Linked DNA regions of Homo sapiens: regions 1 and 3 are each linked to region 2. Evidence: fine-mapped expression QTL. A gene starts in region 2. Each other region holds a variant in brackets. All regions are shown on one strand. Distances are from middle to middle. Region 1 overlaps LMOD1 (leiomodin 1). Region 2 holds the start of IPO9 (importin 9). Region 3 overlaps IPO9 (importin 9).

Region 1 (2,762 bases), 73 kb before region 2:
AAGGGTCTGAATGGGAGTCCTAGCTCTGAAGGGGGCTGCGTGAAAAGAGGAGGCTGGTGGGTGAGGCTCTGTGGGCAGCTGGGCACTTGAGTACTCCAGGGATGCTGGGTGGGCCGAGAGGAGCTGCTTTGGCCCCTGATGGGGAAGGTTAGAGATGGTTACATTGACTTGGTGGCTGTTAGTGAGACAGTCAGGTCTGAAATCCAGCTTTTCCCGAACTTGCTAGGTGAAGTCAGTTAACTCATCATCTCTCTGGATCCCCAGTTTCTCTCTGAGTGAAGCCTACAAGTGGCGTGGGAACTCTGGAAAGGGAAGCTATGCAGTGCACAGTGGGCTCTGAGAACTCCTGAAATGTGCACATTTTGGGAAAGGAAGGAAGAGGGGAGGGCAGGAGTCTTTGCCCTGGAGGCCTAATCTCTAGACCATGGGCCTAGAGAGGCTGGTCCCTCCAGCTCTCACCTCCAAGCTCCAAAAGTGGACAGAATCAGTGATGGAACTGCTCTCAACTTGATGGGATCAGGGAATAGGAGAGGGAATTTCCTGGTCAAACTATGGGCAGATCCTAAAAGGGCTGATCCATTGGGTTTCCTTGTTTCCATTCTATTTGCATACTCCTCTCCTTCTGTCCCTTTCAAATCAAGGTTCAGTAAGGTCACCATCACTTCTGCTCCAGGGTCAAACCCAGTTGATCTGAGGGTCAAACCCAGTTCCCTGGGGGCCTGAGTGAGTGGGAGGGGGAGCTCTCTGCCCCTTGCTCCATCACCATAGCCCCAGTGGGGCCTCCAGTGCAGCTGGACCTTGGGGCCTGCAGGGCAGGAGGCTAGAACAGATACATTCCAAGGCCCTGTCTCACTAGGCCCTGTGCCCCTTGGCTGCTTATTGTGATTCTAGCAGAGGAGCCAAGGACTCTCGCTGCTAAAAAAACCCAGGGGCTGGTCCCCAATGGCATGTGTTTGTGGTGCAGGTACAAACCGTTTCCATAGGACTCACTTTTCTTTCCATTCCCTCGGCGAAGAGCGGAGGTTGAAGAAATGCTACTTGGGCCCGAGAGTGCGACAGAGAGCTGCTTTCCTTTCTTCCCTGCCCTCTCCCCACACCCCAACCTGGCACTCTTGAAAGAAAACTTTTTAAATATTCAAACCATAGTCTCTTCCTCTTGAAAAACCTTTAGGGGAGGACATCACAGCCTCCCTTTAAGTCCCAGTTGCTCTGGGGTCACAGTTGGACAGTTAAGTCTAATGTCTACTCTATGTCTAATGTCTAACTCTGCCACTTCCTCTGCTTCTCTGATGAAGACGAGAAGCAAGTGCTCTCAAAACAGGGCTCAGGCTCGGTGCAACCTTACGGAGGAAGAAACAGGGATCCATGGAGGTGTGGGTGGCTTATGCTGTGTATAAAACTCAAGCCCCCAGCCTGGCGCGGCGGCTCACGCCTGTAATCCCAGCACTT[T/G]GGGAGGCCGAGGTGGGTGGATCATGAGGTCAGGAGTTCGAGACCAGCCTGACCAACATGGTGAAACCCTGTCTCTACTAAAAATACAAAAATTAGCTGGGCATGGTAGTGTGCACCTGTAATCCCAGCTACTCAGGAGGCTGAGGCAGGAGAATCACTTGAACCCGGGAGGCAGAGGTTGCCATGAGTCAAGATTGCGCCATCACACTCCACCCTGGGTGACAGAGCAAGATTCTGTCAAAAACAAACAAACAAACAAACCAAAAAAAACCTCAAGCCCCCATCACAGCTCAACTGACTTGGTCCCATGGCCTCTCTCACAAACTTCTCAGTGTCTCGGGGGTCAAAATTGAGTCATAGAATCCAAGATCTAGAATCTGGCAGAGTCTTCCAGAGATCAGCTGACCCAATGAATTCCAGGGCTCTCCACAGAGAGATGCTTGTCCTTAGCTAAGTTTTTACTAAAAATAAGGACAATACTGTGAATTTAAAAAAATACACATATTTGCTGTTAAGGTATATTCTTTACTCTGTTATGCCTACCTTCTTTAAAATTAGCTCCTTCTTATTTTAATGAGATGATGATGGTAGATAGAATTTTAAAATATCGGATGGGCATGGCAGCTCACACCTGTGATCTCAGCACTTTGGGAGGCTGAGGTGGGAGGACTGCTTGAGGATAGGATTTTGAGTCCAGCCTGGGCAACATAACAAGACCCCCATCTCTAAAAAAAAAAAATAATAATAATAACAATAATAATGATAATAATTTACAAATATCCTTAATTGGTAAAATAAAATGTTAGCATATGTTGATCCCTCTACCTTTTTTTCCTTTGGAAATGTATTGCCTTATAAAATTTCTGTATCTCAGAACTATTGGCCTACTCCTTAAAAGCAGGGGCCAGGACTAAGGTGAAGGGATGTGAGGCACTCACCTTGGGCACAGAATATAAGCGGATGCCAAAAACTCAGTGAGCAAGATAACTGATGTTTTCACATATATATATATATACACATATATATATGTGTATATATATATATACACATATATATGTATATATATATATATATACACACACACATATATATGTGTATATATATATATACATATATATATGTATATATATATATATATATACATATATATATGTATATATATATATATATATATACATATATATATATATATATTTTTTTTTTGAGACAGAGTTTCGCTCTTGTTGCTTAGGCTGGAGTGCAATGGTGCAGTCTTGGCTCACCACAACCTCCACCTCCCAGGTTCAGGTGATTCTCCTGCCTCTGCCTCCCGA
Region 2 (2,762 bases):
TCAAGGGGGACAGACATTAATGTGCATAAACGAATTTTATTTAGAAGCCGCTAAAAATTCCTTTAGATTAGTTTATACATGGTTCTCAAACAGCTTTCTCCTAACCAGTGGTTTCTCCTGTATAGATCTGATATTTTATAAAACAATGACAATTACAAGTGGGCCTTCAAAATGGTCCTTAGCCTGTTAGATCCCAAATCTTAACATATTTCCAACAGAAGAAAATTTGTTTTCAACAGCTCTTTCATACTGTGAAAGAATGTAAACTAAATTTAAGAGAGATTTGTTCTAAATTCTTTTCAATAGAAATACGTCCAGTAGGAGAGCTAACTGAAGGTTTTGAATATGATGGGTGTGTGATGGGACAATTTCCCATATCTCTGATGAAGTATTTAAGTGGTGGTGGAAATATTCCTGAGTTGGGAGATTCTGAGGATTTGGAGTTCCAGTGAAGCTCTGACCAGATATATTTCTTACACAAAGACCAAGAAGATTTCTCCTCCTGTTTCTGGATTAAATTGTTCTTTGTGGTAGCTACACTGGACCCGGTGAAAGGCTCACGCGGCAGGAAATTGATAGAAAATCTCGAACCAATGGTTTATTTTCTTCTCCATCACTTTAAAGCACACAATAGAGGACGGAGACAAAGAATCAAAAACAAAGGATGATCAGTTCCTCCAAACAGAAATGCACAAAGGTATTTAATAAGGGCAAATTATTTTTAAAATAAACGTTAAGTATGGTCAGGACAGTGAAGCAATCGCATATGCATTTAATTTCTGGGAAAACACGAAGAGTACAAACAACTAGCTAGGTTTATAACTCAGAGGCAGAAACTTGTTTGATGACATCTATTAAGCTTTGATAGCCGCCTTTTCGAGGCCCTACCCTTCACCACTCCTACTAATAGCTCCCCCTACTCTTATCCCAGTACAATCCAGCTGGTGAAGAGAACAGCGAAAGACTTTGGTCCTGGACTCAAAAAATATTTCCCCGACCGCGCTACTTCCTCCAACAGCACCAAGTCTAGCTCCATCTCCGTCCCCTGCAGATTCTAGGCTCCATCTATCTTTTCAAGTCTCCACCCTCCCTCCCCCACTCCCAGGCTCCACCTCCCCCGACCCTATCCTTCAGGCGCGCCTCTCCTCTCTCGGACTTTCACAACCACCAGCGACATCAATCTCTCGCTTCCTGCTCCACTTCTCGGCGCCCACATCTCCAACTGGCTCAGGCTCCCCATGTCCCCAGCCGGTACGGAGCTGCGGTCAGCGGATTGTGCGGCTGAGCCATCCTCGTGACGGTCCCGCCTCACTCACCCTCCGTCACCTCCAGCACCTTAATCTGTTCTTCAGCAGCCGCCCGCACCTCCTGTACTGGGGATAGGATCCCGGTGAGCGTATCCACTAACGCTTCCTTTAATCCTTGTGCCACTGGACCCGGCAGCCCGGAGGCCGCACCAGCTGCCGCCGCCGCCGCCATCTTTTCTCCCCTCAGCCCGCCAGCCCCGCGGCCGGGACCCGCCACCGAATGACGGCCCCCGCGCGCGGCCAATCCGCGAAGCCGCGCCTGCGCACCAGAGGCGGGCGGGAGCGGGCGGAGGGCGGGGAATGAATCTAAGCCTCCAGAGACAGCGCCTCCTGCTGCCTGAACGAGAACTGCACCTTTCTCTGCAAGGATCTCTGGATTTGTGTGAAAACTGAGCCCCAGACAGGTTAAGGGGCTTTCCTAAAGTTGCACAGTAAGTTAGCAATCTCATTTGGAATAAAGTTCATGATATATGACTTTATATTCATGCATCTTTCAGGTGTTAGGAGAGAGGAGGCGGGATGGGAATAGATGTAGAGGGCTTTAAGGAGAGAGGTCTGGGTCACAAATAGCCCCTATTTTAAACCACATTCTTTTCCCCCCAAACACTGAAAAAAAGTTGGCTCAAGTGACTCTCTTCATCTTAGCCTCAGGAATCCAAAGAGGGGGGAAAATAAACTAAAGCAAACTGGGAAGTGGAAGTGGGAAAACCACGGCCCAGTCCCTTGGTTTTCCAGCCTAGATGAGCCCAACCTCAAAGCTGGGAAGTGGCTGGGCAGGGGAGACACCGGCATGTGAAAGGGAGTTTCTTCCAGAGTGAGTGTTGTATGTGACTATTTGAGAATGAATCCTATTTGTTGAAAATGTATAAATTTTTTTCCCTGAGAAATTATGGCTGGACATTTAAGGGGTGCGAGAACAAGAGCAGTTTGATGATATGGTTGTCAGCAGCTGGTCGTGGGAAATGGCCTACGGTGCAGAGCCGCTCCTGAATAGCGGAGCAGGTGGAGAGGATGAGCGCTCCAGTGAGGTGTTAAAAATGCAGGGTGTGGCGAGGCGCAGTGGCTCACGCCTCTAATCCTAGCACTTTGGGAGGCCGAGGCAGGAGGATCGCTTGAGCCCAGGATTTCGAGAACAGCCTGGGCAACATAGCGAGACTTCGTCTCTACAAAAAAATACAAAAATTGCCCAGGCGTGGTGGCGTACGCCCTGTAGTCCCGGCTGTTCGGGAGGTGGAGGTGGGAAGATCACTTGAGCCCAGGAGGAGGAGGCTGCAGTGAGCAGTGATTGCGCCATTGCACTCCAGCCTGGGCGACAGAGTGACATCTTGTCTCAGAAAAAGAAGAAAAAGCAAGATGTAAGCCAAGGCAGGAGGATCACTTGAGCCCAGGAGTTCCAGGCTGTAGTGTGCTGTCATCACACCTATGAATAGCTACTGCATTCCAGTCTGGGCAAGA
Region 3 (2,762 bases), 41 kb before region 2:
TGGCCAAGGCTTGGGCTTATAAAGGAAAATAAGCCACTAGCAGCACTTAGCTGTGTGAAGTCTGTGGTAGAGAAGGGATCTCTTGTAAACAGAGACCAGAAATATATAGTCTACCTGTGTTGACTGTCTTTTGGGGATTTCAAGATGGCAGCTATTCACATATGTGCGTTAGCAATAAAGAAAGACAGGGAAAAGGGAATACAGAGAGCCATTTGAAATGTCAAACAAAAATCAATGGAGCAAATCAGGAAAAAAAAGAAATATGTGTCAGGAGCAGTGGCTCACACCTGTAATCCCAGCACTGTGGGAGGCCGAAGTGGGTGGATCACTTGAGGTCAGGAGTTCAAGACCAGCCTGGCCAACATGGTGAAACCCTCTCTCTACTAAAAACACACACACAAAGAATTCACTGGGTATGGTGGTGCATGTGTGTAATATTCGGACGGCTGAGGCAGGAGCAGGAGAATTGCTTGAACCTAGGAGGTGGAGGTTGCAGTGAGCCAAGATTGTGCCACTGCACTCCAGCCTGGGCGACAGAGCGAGACTGTCTCAAAAAAAAAAAAAAAAAAAAAAAAAAAAAAGAAATATGAGTGGTGGCAGAATGCCCAGAAAAGAAAGATGAGGTTCTACCTGACTTTGCCTTCATACTGTCCATAGAACAGGTGCTGTCGGCTTGTCCACTCAGCCATCACAAACTCTAGAGCAGGTTTGCCAGTAGGTCCTGGGAGGCTACACAGGAACTCCAAGAGAGGTTCTAGCTGAGTGTGCACCAGATGAGCGAACACCATGATCAGGGACTAGGAGAAAATAAGGACATTTGCTTCAGGGAAATCAATTTCAGAGACATAGGAGATGAGAGGGAACTGGCCAGTCAGATAAGAAATACAGTCTACACTGAGGGTATTATCCACAGGACAAGAAAACATGGGAGATTTCCTTGTCCATGTTTCTTAGGCCAAACAGATCAGACAGGTCCCATTTTACTTAACTGTCCTACAAGGCTAGTAAGAGGGTAAAATAAAATAACTCAGGACCAAAATACGAATTTTCATTTCTATCAGCCAGGGAGTAGGAAGCCCACTCCCCACTGCTCTCTTACCTGCATGACACTGAGCGTCTCTGCCTGCTGCATCTTACTGAGGATGGCACGAAGAATCTGGTCTAGATTCTCCCCGAGTTCCCGCCCTGCCTTGGAGATGAGGGTGGAAACAAGGCGGCCCACAAAGGCCGCAGTGAACTCTGAGGTGCGGGGGTCCAGGAGCTGGCT[C/T]ACCACTTGCATCACATACCACAGTCCATTGTGGCCCTGCTCATCATGCCACTGGGCTACTTGTTCCAGGGTCACTGACACATAGGCCCGCAAGCACTCTCCGCCATTCTGGGGAGACAGGGGTGGCAAGCAAGATTAGTAATCGAGGGACAGATGCCAGAAGGCCCTCAGTCTGTATAAACAAATGTTCCCAGAGGCCTATGCCTCATAAAAGCGGTGAGTCTATAATGTTTGTGGTGGGCTCATACCACTGGAGTTAAGACATTTACTGTTACAGACATAGACGTGCATTACATAATTCCCCCTTTACCTAATCAGCTATCTCACAAATGTGTATATATATTTTTTTAATCACAAGGGACAATGGCCAAGCAAAATGAATTTTAATCATAAAGGTCTACCTCTGGTACTAAAAAAATATGCTTACAATCTTGGAATAACTGGGGATACTGTAGGTCTTTATATAGGTCTTACACAAACCACTAGTTGCCTAGGGATTTCCAAGCTGATCAATATTCACTGGCAAGTTCCTATAACCTTTCTAATCAATCACAGTAGCAGACACCTGAAAAGGTAACCAATTCACCCAAGAAACAAAAAGAGAAAAAATATTCAGGCATGTCTCCCCTCTCTAGAGGCCCATCACTCTGCTGACTTTATTACTAGAAGAAATATGCAGAAAGACTTTCTTATGGCCCCAAGTCTAGATGTCTGTAACCTCTTTCACAGTAGCAATACCCAATACAGATGGGCAGGGTGCTTGGTATCCATATTTTTAAAAACTGTAACATGCTCCAAAGCACCAGAAATGCTTGGCTTTTGCAGACTGAACCCTTCCTGAATCTGCTAAGTAAATATGGAGTTGAGAATTCCGTATTTCAAAAGCATAAAACCATGTCAGATTTCTCAGCATAGTATAAGCCCATGGCTGGGGAGCTATCTTCCCTCTTCTACTCTCCATGTCTCAGATACCTGCATGGTGGCATTGTCATCTGTGTGAAGGGTACACTGTGCCACAGCAGGGAAAGCTTGGCAGATGAGAAGCTGGGAAAGGGGAGGCTTTGTATTTCGTACTACTGTTGTCAGGATATCAATGGCTGTCTGAAAGAGAGAAGAAAAAGAAAAGTCAGAATTGCCTCTGGGGTGGGGGTTGCCCAACAACCAAGATCCTTACTGGATGGGTATTACATAGCAACCCAGAGAAAGCTTATTAATGAAAGGCAAGTTTCCAAAATAAAAGGAATAATTAAATGGGTAGTACTCTCAGCCTTCTCATAATAGCTTACTAATTGATTAGCCATAGGGGTGGGCAGTAGTACATGGTAGTGGATTGGATAACCAGGTGACATACTTAGTGGCACTGTGTAAAGGTGGCACTCTGTTCAATTCACTGAGGGTACCTCTGGAACAAGAAGAGCCATTTTCTTTCTTTCTTTCTTTTTGAGGCAGTCTCGCTCTGTCACCCAGGCTGGAGTGCAGTGGCACGATCTCCACT

What was found. PIP is the estimated chance that this variant, and not a neighbour inherited with it, causes the effect.
Region 1: its variant is fine-mapped to the expression of IPO9 in blood mononuclear cells (TOPMed, PIP 0.96).
Region 3: its variant is fine-mapped to the expression of IPO9 in whole blood (TOPMed, PIP above 0.99).

The regions. Positions count from the first base shown.
Region 1 is chr1:201,901,393-201,904,154 of GRCh38, reverse strand. All of the region lies in intron 1 of LMOD1 (leiomodin 1), which reads left to right. Among named protein-coding and RNA genes, the nearest start is that of SHISA4, 14 kb to the right of the region's middle. The variant T/G (reference allele first, on the strand shown) is at 1,450.
Region 2 is chr1:201,827,927-201,830,688 of GRCh38, reverse strand. IPO9 (importin 9) reads right to left here and starts at 1,532. Exons shown (of 24, transcript NM_018085.5): 1 at 1,317-1,532. The coding sequence starts at 1,479. IPO9-AS1 (IPO9 antisense RNA 1) reads left to right here and starts at 1,130. Exons shown (of 3, transcript NR_046696.1): 1 at 1,130-1,738. RefSeq lists enhancers at 1,233-1,442, 1,454-1,748, 1,905-2,418, 2,419-2,762 and a silencer at 1,493-1,732.
Region 3 is chr1:201,869,196-201,871,957 of GRCh38, reverse strand. It overlaps IPO9 (importin 9), which reads right to left. Exons shown (of 24, transcript NM_018085.5): 17 at 2,240-2,368; 18 at 1,100-1,375; 19 at 631-797. Among named protein-coding and RNA genes, the nearest start is that of MIR6739, 7.2 kb to the right of the region's middle. The variant C/T (reference allele first, on the strand shown) is at 1,268.